Homo sapiens: one gene and its partner. The protein of the gene in region 2 interacts with the protein of the main gene of each other region in a pairwise test. Each region holds a gene or a part of one and is shown on either strand. Other genes may lie near its edges.

Evidence for each region.
Region 1: the proteins of DCAF8 (region 2) and PEX1 interact in binary tests that used the Homo sapiens proteins (3 or more experiments, as listed by UniProt).

The regions. Positions count from the first base shown.
Region 1 is NC_000007.14:92,486,312-92,490,605, forward strand, and holds the end of PEX1 (peroxisomal ATPase PEX1), read right to left. Parts: intron 3,601-4,294; coding exon 3,403-3,600; intron 3,113-3,402; coding exon 2,982-3,112; intron 1,231-2,981; coding exon 1,146-1,230; 3' UTR 714-1,145; downstream 1-713. UniProt on the Homo sapiens protein: Component of the PEX1-PEX6 AAA ATPase complex, a protein dislocase complex that mediates the ATP-dependent extraction of the PEX5 receptor from peroxisomal membranes, an essential step for PEX5 recycling.
Region 2 is NC_000001.11:160,238,254-160,245,551, forward strand, and holds part of DCAF8 (DDB1- and CUL4-associated factor 8), read right to left. Parts: intron 5,782-7,298; 5' UTR 5,756-5,781; coding exon 5,707-5,755; intron 2,118-5,706; coding exon 1,444-2,117; exon of another isoform or gene 969-1,443; intron 495-968; coding exon 354-494; intron 1-353. UniProt on the Homo sapiens protein: May function as a substrate receptor for CUL4-DDB1 E3 ubiquitin-protein ligase complex.

The DNA of each region.
Region 1 (4,294 bases), on a different chromosome or scaffold from region 2:
TGTTTTGTATGTTCTCCAAATTTTTACCACCACCACCCTTCATGAACTTACTAAATGGTTTTTACATTGTTTGTTAGGCTATCCCATAGACATTGCTTCTGATCATGAAACTCACTTTATGGTGAAAAGAGGGCAGGTATGTCAGCTCAGTGATTTCATCAAAGAACTGAGAAACAAAGTGCAATGCAGGGTGACGTGTCTCAGTTTAATACTAGTGATCCACTAAGTCTTTGTTTCTATCCCCTGGGATTCTGAGCTTTGCTGGTTTAGAACCTTGAACCTCCTGGGAGCAAGTGATCCTCCTACCTCAGCCTCCCAAGTAGCTGGGACTAGAGGCATACCATCATGCATGGCTAATTTTTTTTTTAAGAGATGGGGTCTCACTATGTTGCCCAGGCTTACTTGTATATTTTAATTAATGTTCTCCTTTTTGCTGTTCCCTTACCCCATTACTATATAGTTAAGATATTAGATACGCAGATTGTATTGATGGTGGCTAACTTTATAATTTAGTTCATATATGAGAGAATATCAAGATAAAATCATAACTGGAACTAGGAGAGGAATGGATGTCATTTAAATATCTTGGGCTTGGAGCTGGATGTAGTATAGTAGAGGGATGTGATTTCATTTCTGGTTGAGCGGATAATTAAATGTATTTGAATTATGTGTAAATTTCACATTTTTTGATATACAAAGAACAGATAATTGTATCAGTAGGTAATAGGATATTTTATTTCAAAACAGTGAAGAAGCTGCTAAGCATAAAATTTGTCAAATGCTACAAAGGTGATGAATATACAACTGGGAATTCCAAGAAATTTAAATTTAATTACATTCTTTATTATCTTTTCCTCAAAAGAAATAAATTAGTTCCACCATTTGGCTAATATTATTTCATTAAAGACTGAATTTAGATTTTAGGAAATAAAATATGGAATCTGTTATAATGTCCCAATTTATACTACAGTATTAATCTCAATCCTGATCATTACATAATTATAGCATTTACCAATCTGTGATTTTATAAATTAACCAAATTTGTTAAATTAAGAAGAAATTCATAGACACCATTTTTTTCCTGTTACAACATATGGAAAAGCCATCAAAAAACTTAACAGAACCAAATCAAAAAGAAGTATATTTTATGCTAAAGTTACTTTCTGTCCAGGTCGAAACATTGTTCCACTTTGATTTTTTCTCCTCTTTGGATTTTGAAAGCTTTCATATCTGAAAAAAGAAAGAGATAATTTAATATGTATAAATACTACCATTACAAAACAAAAGATAATGGATTGTTGGCAAACACAATTATATTTTAAGAAATGAACGGGAAATAACAAACTAGAAAAAAAAATTCCAGTCACAGAAATTAAAAAGAATTCTTACAAATAAAGTTGCACTCCAATAGAAAACGGAGCAAAGGGGATGAAGAGACAAGTTAGAAAAGATAAAATACAAATGACAATGAATAATATGAAAAATTATAACTTCTACACTTTAATCAAAGAAATGTAAATTATTGATATCATTTTTCTAAAATCAAAAGGGCCAAGTTTAGAAAAATACTGCAACACACAATGTTAGTGATGGTGCAGTATATCTGGCAGGCAATTTGGCAATACATTTCAAAAGCCTTAAAAAATGTGAGCTCCCTGTTATACAATTCCACCTCTATCCTAGTGAAACAATTAGATATGTGCATATATTCAGCTGCAAGAATGTTCATTACCACATTGCCTGGGAGCAATTTAAATGTCTAAAAATTGGATATTGTGGCATAGCTACACTATAAAATGACATTTAAAAACAATAAAGTAGTTAACATTTAAAATGTAAAACAATTTTCAGGATGTATGTGGATAAAGGGGGACTGCTATATAGCAATATGTACAGACTGTTCTTACCATAATAGGAAAACATATATAAGCATATAAACAAATATGCTTTGGGAGGTGGTGGGCTTAACAGAAATTTGTTTCCTTATTTTTCCTTACCTCTGTTTTCTGATTCTTCTTTAATAAATACATAGCACTAACGTATGTACACATACATACATACTTCAAAGTACTGCAAAATTAGATAACAAAAGGTAGCAGCTTCTAAAGACCAGGAATAAACATCTCTTAAATTGAATCACACTGAATCATTGACCTAGAATGGTTCCCAGTCCATGGGTCTCAGATGCATAGGTGGCCATAAACTCAATTGCAAGGATCCTTTAAATCCAATGTATAACAAATGTGGTCCACAAATGAATAAATCTGAATGTATTTAAATGTTCTTGAGGTCAATAAAATATTAATATAAATTATTTTGAAGGCAAAACAGGTATTTTTATAACAAAATTTTATAAACTATACATTAGAATCACTTTCAACTTTTAATTTTCCTTCTTATTTCTTCGAAGTTACTAAATTTTTTTTTTTTTTTTTTGAGACACAGTCTCGCTCTGTGGCCCAGGCTGGATGGAGTGCAGTGGTGCAATCTCGGCTCACTGCAACCTCCACCTCCTGGGTTCAAGCAATTCTCCTGTCTCAGCCTCCCAAGTAGCTGGGACTACAGGCACATGCCACCACACCTGGCTAATTTTTGTATTTTTAGTAGAGATGGGGTTTCCCCGTGTTGGTTAGGCTTGCCTCGAACTCCTGACCTCAGGTGATCCACCTGCCTTGGCCTCCCAAAGAGCTGGGATTACAGGCATGAGCCACAGCACCCAGCCCAAAGTTACTAAAATTAAATGAGTCCATTATGAATAATTCAAATATAATCAAATGAACTGGTTAATGAAAACTCAATTTTGACTTCTGTACTTCTGACATTTTGGGGTTTTTTAATGCATAGCTACGACACATATTTTTTGAATTAGCTTTTAAATATTCAAAATATTTTTATTTTAAACACGAACTTTAAAGGTTTAAGTGTAATACTATGTCACTTGTAATAGTAGCTGTACTTCCAAAACAGAATCTGTTACTTACAGCTCAGCAAAATTCTTCCAGTCATCTTCACTAATGGATGGTCTTGTGTGACCAAGTGCAGTCATTAAATGTGACTGACTAATAGCCAGTCTGGTTTTGATTGGTCCTGGTTGGTTCATGGATTCGTCCTCCTTAAGTAAAAAAAGAAATTGACGAAGAGTTAAATTAAGGATGTAAAAAAAAATGTGGTAGTCCAGTTGTTACTTCTTATTGTCAGTTTTTTCAAGAGACCATACGTTCTCTTCCTTATAAGATAATGAAACATTGAAAGCAAGGAAGCACATAACCATGACTGAGTTAATGTGTTCTGGTCCCTTGTTTATAAATATAGCTCGTTTATAAGTCAAAGAAATATATATCAAAAGGGTGAAACAATTTTTAAGAAGTTTTAACAATTATAATGAGGGGGAAAAAGCCATACTCCACTTTGGCTCCGGTATCTGCCTTTGATAATACTGATATCTGCCCTCAGTTGATCTCTTTGTTCTTGTGTAAGTTCTTGGCAACCCTCTTGTGAAGCTGTCCTTAACACTGGAGGCTGTGAAAACAACTGGTCTTTCCCAGGAACTCCAGGCAAATCCTGAGTCATGGAGCTTGGTGCAGAGAGACATTGTGAGCTCTGCATGGTAAATTGTAGTAATGAAAGATGGAAGGAAGAGGGGGAGAGAAAAAACTATGTGTTTACCAAATATAAAAATTAAACATTTTAAGCAATAAAACATTAACATAGATAAGTATACATGTTAATTAACTGAAATTAAGCAAGCTGAAAAGTTGTTCATCTTTTATAAAGGTTCACTGATACCTGTGTTATAGAACCACCATCAAGTGAAAATTGCCATAACACAGGGTAGGTTTTTTTAACTTTGTTGCTTAAATCCAACACACTAATGCCCAAGGACAGGTTTCTTCATTTTCAGAAAGTAAAGTTATACTAAGTTTCTGGGACATTTCTAAATAGAATAAATTAAAAACAGAATTAAAGACTAAAATTAAACCACCACCTTACTGTTCTTGGGAATAAAAATGAATTGCTTTTATATTTTTAAAGTCTGAGTTAGGCTAGGCATAGTGGCTCACACCTGTAATCCTAGCACTTTGGGAGGTCAAGGCACGCAGATAGCTTGAGCCCAGGAGTTTGAGACCAGCCTGGGCAATATGGTGAAACCTCGTCTCTACAAAACATACAAAAATTAGCTGGGCATGGTGGCATGTGCCTGTAGTCCCAGCTACTCAGGAGGCTGAGGTGGAAGAATCACCTAAGCCCAGGAGGTCAAGGCTGCAGTGAGCCATAATTGTGCCACTGCACTCTA
Region 2 (7,298 bases):
CAAGAGGAATAAACCACTAGCACCTTGAAACTGTCAAAATACCCTAAAAAATCACAATAAATGTAAAAGGTTTAGAGGGCACAGGAGACCTCAAAGATCTCCAAACCAACTAGGGCTTAGCTTAGGGGCCAAATACTATGAATGCATGATCTAGGGACTTTTCAGATACTTGCCTTCCTAGGAGTTTAGGGTGGCTGCTTTTGCTCCTTTCTTAACCACAAATCTTAGGACTGAAAGAGGTGAGGCACATGACCACAACAAATGTGACACAATGGGCAGAGATAAGGGAGAACCTTGGCTGAGAACCACAGAGGATTTGGATTGCACAAATTTTGGAGCAAGGTCTTACTTACCTTGTGGGACGCTCCCTTGTGCTGGGCCACACGTTTTGTATTCTTGCAACACTGTGTGGCAGACAGTTCTGCTACTCGAACCTGCCCGTCACGGGCACACATGGCCAGAGTAGAATCACCACTGTTAGGAAGAAACTTGGCCTGGGGTGTTAAAAATGAAAAAAAGGACACACAAAAGAAATGAGAGAGGTAAACTTGAGAATAAAAAATACGATGATGACCTCAACTTACCCCCTTTTCTTACATGACAGCTGGAAACTTAGCTTTCCTACTCTTGTACAGCTGGCTAAGCCCAATTTCTTCCAGGAGTTAAAGGAAAGGGAGAGAAAAAACTTCCTTTGATGTAAGAGAGCATTTCAGTTGGCTCTGGAAGATTGAACTGGCACATGATAAGAGCTCAGATGAACTAGGACTGTATCTAGCAGAGGAGAAAAGGAATAGAGGAGGAAAAATCTACTTTGATTAAGAAAGTAAATATAAATTTGCTACAAAGAAAAAGGAAAATAGGGGGAATGTCAGGGAAGAAAAGAGAACACCCTTAGGATAAATGGCTGGTACCAGTACAGTAGATGGGGCCAAGGAGTAAAATCTTTCCAGAATAACAACAGTATAAGCTAACATTTATCAAATGTTTATTAAGTACCAGTCACAGTTCTAACTGCTTAGCTTCTATTGTTACTTAATCCTCATAACCCTATGTGTTATTAGTCCCATTTTACAGATAAACTGAAGACAAAGGTAAAATAACTTGGCCAAGATCACTGAGCTAGTAAGCAGAAGGGCTAGGATTTGAACTCAGGCAGTTTGGTTCAAGAGCCTGTGCTTATACTACACTGCCTCCTACCAGCACACATTTAATAAGCTGCATGCACCCTACCTATGAGGCTTCCAACAGTCCACATGCTCAAGGAATCTAGGGTTGCCAAGAGTCTTTCAGTGTATTTAGGTCATTAGGGGAGCCAAAGTAGGGCCATGTCCCGATATGTAATTCCTACAATAACTCACTATCAGCTCCCAATCCATGCTGCAGTTCAGATTTCTCTAACTCATGCCTGATTCTCTCAGTTGCTATTATGCTCCCTTGCCTCACCTGGAACACATTACTTTTGTGGCCACTCTCAAAGTCCAGTACTGGCTGCCGCCGTACCCAATCCCACACCACCACCTTCAGGTCATCGCTGCCACTGGCCAGCCAGGTGCCGCGCTGGTTAAAGTGCAGGGTATTGACACAACCAGTATGGCCCTCAAGCCCATGCTGCAGGCGGAAACGCTGCACAAAGACTCTTGCCCCACAGGCCTCATAGACAAAGCGGGCACTTGAACCCAGCTCCCGCTCCCGAAGGGCAGGGAGGGCTTGCCAGCGAGGTCGGGGTAGAGCTGATGTTTCTGAGGACACCCAGTCCTCTAGGGCCCGCTCATCATCTGATGAGTCCTGGTCACGGTTAGCCCGCTTGCGCTGTACACGGCGCCGAGGCTGCTCTTCTTCCTCCTCTTCTTCCTCCTCTTCCTCTTCCTCTGAGCGGTCATGGACTCGATTTTCATCATTAATGGAGTAATGACCAGTGTCCTCCATGCTGTCAGAGTCCTTATCTTCACCTGAGCTCTCTGTGTCTGTGCCTCGACTTTCTGTGCTGGTGCGGTTGGGGCCACCATCATCCCCAGTCAAGCTCAAACTCAGGTCTGAGGCCTCCACTTCAATGCCTGAGGATGTCTCCCTCCCCTCTTCAGCTCCAGACATCTCCTCTGGACTGCTAGACAGGCTTCCTGCATGTTAGTGAGGAAGGAGTAGAGGAGAGGGAAAAATAAGAAAACAGGATAGTGACCACCTTAGTCTAAGAAATCTTCACATCAAAAGACCAAAAAATGAACTTTGGTCCAAGTGTTTTCATTACAAATAATTACAGAGAGTACCCTCTGAGGGGAAATCTTGTAAAGGACAAGAAATTGAAAAGATTAAGATCAAATCCACACACATAAAATACTTCAACAAAAGCAAAGAATCTCAGGACAATCTAAGATTATATTAAGTTCTCAAGAGGCAAAACATTGGCATATTGTATAAAAGTGTGCCTGATACATCTACCATTGGCTCTGTTGTATTGGATGGGCATTTATTAAGTTATAGCAAATAATTAAACAGAATATAAAAAGAAGAGCCAACTCCAGCAAGAGCTAGCATAGCCATCTTCTTAGCGAAAGACGGAAACCAGCTGATAAAAATCACTCTTGACTTATGGATGTGGTGTTGCACCATTTCCTACTTTAAGAAAGTATCAGGCCAGGCACGGTGGCTCACGCCTGTAATCCCAGCACTTTGGGAGGCCGAGGCACGTGGATCACGAGGTTAGGAGATCGAGACCATCCTGGCTAACATGGTGAAACCCCGTCTCTACTAAAAATACAAAAAATTAGCCGGGCGCCTGTAGTCCCAGCTACTCAGGAGGATGAGGCAGTAGAATGGCATGAACCCAGGAGGCAGAGCTTGCAGTGAGCCAAAGTCGCACCACTGCACTCTAGCCTGGGCGACAAAGCGAGACTCCATCTCAAAAAAAAGAAAGTACCACTACACCTTCTGTCACCTAAATCCTAAGCTTCTTCCCCACCTAAGTTTCTAAAATTCACTAAGAAAGCAAGCTGAAGGGGTAAGTGGGAATTGTGATCATTTGAGTGGGTTCTTGCTCACCTTTTGCTAGTAAATATATTTTGACTTACTTCCATTAGTTTGAATTTTTTAATATAATTCTTAGTCACACATTTTTAGTCTCTCTATTGAGACAGTTTTATTAGGAAGCATATATAAAATTGATAAAAAGCTGGGCTACTATAGTGGTGCCTAAGACGAAAGTTCAGTATATTCTAGGTCTGCTATGCTGATAGTTAAATAACTAGGTCACTTTTATCGATCTTATCTCCTATAACTACATACTGCATTCTCTTAACTCACAACAGTCAAGTCAATTCCAATGAGAACTTGAGGAATGTTCTAAAGCCAATACAACCACAACTTCCAACCTAAGTCAAGGTGTGAAGAAAAAAGGGGAGAATAAAGATTTTAAATGCTGCTCATGGGCCTCCTTTCCTCAGATGGCTATAAATTTTATCCGCCAGAAGTAAAAGCTGTCAGGAAAGGCAGACCATCCAGTATGAGCTATTCAACTCCAATACCACACTGATGTTTAAGGATTCAAAGGTGGAGCACCTTATTGCCTAGTCATGTGGATTAGAGCAGTAATTTGTGAAGAGCTCTGAAGCAATGTACTCTTAAGCAAAACCCAATACTGAAAAAAGATCAACAATACAAGTGCTTTGATTCAAGCAGTAACAGAAGCCCAGAAGACATAAACAGTTCTTGCAGGCTGGGCGCGGTGGCTAACACCTGTAATCCCAGCGCTTTGGGAGGCCAAGGCGGGTGGATCACCTAAGGTCAGGAGTTCAAGACCAGCCCGGCTAACATGGTGAAACCCCCATTTCTACTAGAAATACAAAAAATTAGCCGGGCGTGGTGGCATGTGCCTGTAATCCCAGCTACTTGGGAGGCTGAGGCAGAAGAATCGCTTGAACCTGGGAGGTGGAGGCTGCAGTGAGCCGAGATTGTGCCACCGTACTCCAGCTTGGTAACAAGAGCAAAACTCTGTCTCAAAAAAAAAAAAAAAAGCCTCAACTAAGAGCACAGTATAAAACAACTGGGCTAGGGGCTGGAAGAAAAAGTTATGAAGTACAGAAATTTGAACCCAAGGACCACATTTGCTGAGCCTGTTATATATGCTACGAAAGTTTAGCAGTTACAGTTTTTTGAAATGCAGCTGGGCTTGAGCTTGGGAGTGGTGAGCAGGGACTGAAACACCAACCTAACAGGTCTGTAGAAAAGAAAAAATAAAACACCAAAACATCTAGTGTTTATTGTTAAAATTATGAGTAACAAATATAGACAATTTTGGAGGCCTTACCACATTAACATAAGGGCCAGAGGGTATCACAAGCTCATCAAGAAGTCCCCAACAGTAAATCACCAAGATCTAGAGTAGGGGTTTGCAAATTTTTTCTGTAAAGGGCCAGATAGTAAAAACCTTAGGCTTTGCAGACCATACGGAGCTCCACCACAACTACTCAACTCCAGTATGTAGAACAAAAGCAACTCATAGACACTACATAAACGAACAGGCATGACTGTATTCCAATAAAACTTTACAAAAACAAGTGGCAGGCTGGATTTGGCCTGCAATTTATAGTTTGCCAATCCTTGACCTAGCTAATGGTCAAGCTCCAAATCAATAGTATACTTTAACTCCTCTAGAACCCTGTGCCTTTCAACTAAACCCAGTGAAAAATATGAACCACTTTCCTTTACAAAAGATGAATGAATGGCAGTGATAAGAACATATGGAGCAATAAAAAAGCATGTTGAAAATCTCACTTATCCTTCCTCCAATCACATCAACTAGAATTTAGCCTGTTATCCTGACCTTCAAGGTGCTAAGGAATGCTGGACTCTGTGCTGCCCAACTATATCCATTTAAAGGCGGCTTCTCTAATTTAAAAGTTGGCTCAGAGGTGAAGAGCTGGTTAAATAACCCAGGTGGTAGTTATACTCTATTAGAATTTTTATATTCTGCCTTCAAATCTGCCCTAAAGCCAGTGATTTGACACTTGGCAGCACTGGTCCTGAAAAGAAGGAGGAGGGAAAGGAAGGAAGGAAGGAAATAAATGGAAAGAAGGGAGGGGAAGTAAGGAAAGGAAATAAGGAGGGGAAAGATGTCCCACTCCTAGTTGGGTTGTAACTTCATCCCTTATGTAATCACCTTTTTTTTTTTTTTTTTTAAAAAGACGGGGTCTCGCTATGTTGCCCAGGCTGGTCTCAAGCTCCTGGGCTCAAGCGATCTGCCTGTCTCAGCCTCCCAAAGTGCTGAGATTATAGGCATGAGCCACCATGCCCAGCCATGTAATCTCTCTATCAAACTACTACTTACTGTGGAAAGGGACCTCTCAATATAACTGGGAAGCTCATCTTCCCTAAAATTCCCTTGTTCCTACTAGCCATTAGATTTTATTTTTCTCCTTTACTAACAGCATTTCCTAGGTTCTGCCCATCCTTATAGCTTTATAGAACTCCAAACCACTTGACCTCTTAGAAGTACAGCTCTGTTATTGATATTTTGAAAATGATCAGATAAAATCAGAAGAAGCAAAAGCATAATATAGTCCAAGGTGTTTCCTGTGTAGTTTCCTAAACTCAGAACAACACAGGAAAGTTTCCCTCTCTCCACTAAAATCCAGGCCTCCACTCTATCTTGCAGGGAGGAGGACAACCTCAGTTGATAGTAAAAATAGCTTCACCTTCATTTTGGCCCCTTACCATTAGCTAAGTCTGTTCTGCCATCTGTGCTGCTCCCTTTGCTGGACATCTTGAATGATGTTTGCTGTAGCCAGCCTGGGTTTGGGAGAGGAAGAAACCAAAACAATTAGGAAACCACCTGGGAAAGAAGACAATAGGGACAAGGAGATTTAACAATGTACAGGTTTTATCATTTTTATAAAAATGATTTGTGTATGCATGCTTAACAGGTCTTCTCAGCTTGTGAAATTTTTTCTTCCTTATGTTTTCTTCCCTATGTTTAAAATCCATATAATGATATATTTTTGGGGAGGTCAAGTGCCATCTCTTTACTTCACTCACTGAGTAACTGGCAGTGATTTTTCAGATGCGAAAGTGGGAACTAAAATAAAACCTGGAACAGGAGGCACATATCAAATGACAGGTACTGCAAGCCAAGAGTCTCAACTCAATACATAAAGCTAACTTCAGCATTGCCCCCTAGGCAAGAATCTTCCAATGTAAATAAGTGACATATGTATCCTCAAACTCTGTACAACACTTGTTTTCACAACATAAAGAGGTGGGTCAGATTCTGAGTATCATTTTACACACAAATCAACAGAAATCAACCTCTTGGGGGAAGAGATTGAGCTTTCTGTTCACTCAGATGACTAACTTCAAACCTATTATTATTATTCTTTCTTTTTTTTTTTTTGAGACAGAGTCTCATTCTGTCGCCCAGGCTGGAATGCAGTGGCGCTATCTAGGCTCACTGCAAGCTCTGCCTCCCGGGTTCACACCATTCTCCTGCCTCAGCCTCCCAAGTAGCTGGGACTACAGGCGCCTGCCACCATGCCCACCTTTCTGTATTTTTAGTAGAGATGGGGTTTCACTGTGTTAGCCAGGATGGTCTCGATCTCCCGAGTGATCCGCCCGCCTCGGCCTCCCAAAGTGCTGGGATTACAGGCATGAGCCACCACGCCCAGCCCAACTAACTTCAAACTTATTAAAGGCACAGATACTAAGGATTATAGAGCTGAAACTAGAAATCAGGAGCACCCTATCCCTAGGAAAGAAGCTTAAGTTGTTTTGTTTCCCTTAGGACTAACAGTCAGAGTCTCTAAGCACAAAGACAAAGGTGGGGAAGAAAAAGGCAACATTTCCATTAAACCATCTCATCCCATTTCATATAATGGCAAACACTGTTTCACCTAACAGCACCAGCTTTCACCAGACTCATCTTTCCTTAACAAGGAATCAGGGTATCTAACTCACTTCCTTTTATGCCACTATAAAACATTCATATTTTTTTCAGAGCCTCACTGCCACCTCCAGTAAATTCCAAAGAGCAAAGAATAATATTATTCAGACCAGAATTTTATTAAGCCCTTTCAGTGACTTGGACAAAAGGCACTAGTAAAAGACAAAGTATAATTATGACCCCAGTCCTTGTACCCAGGCACACTGGCCTCTAATCTTTCAACAGCCCTTTCATTCCCATGACAATTATTCCAGAAGCAGCCTCATCCTTATCTTTTCCTCCGCTACCCTCTATAGAAATCTAAGCTGCTTCATTAAAAGTATCCTCTGTCAAAAGACAGTAGCCCAAAGATTGTTCATAATAGGCCAAG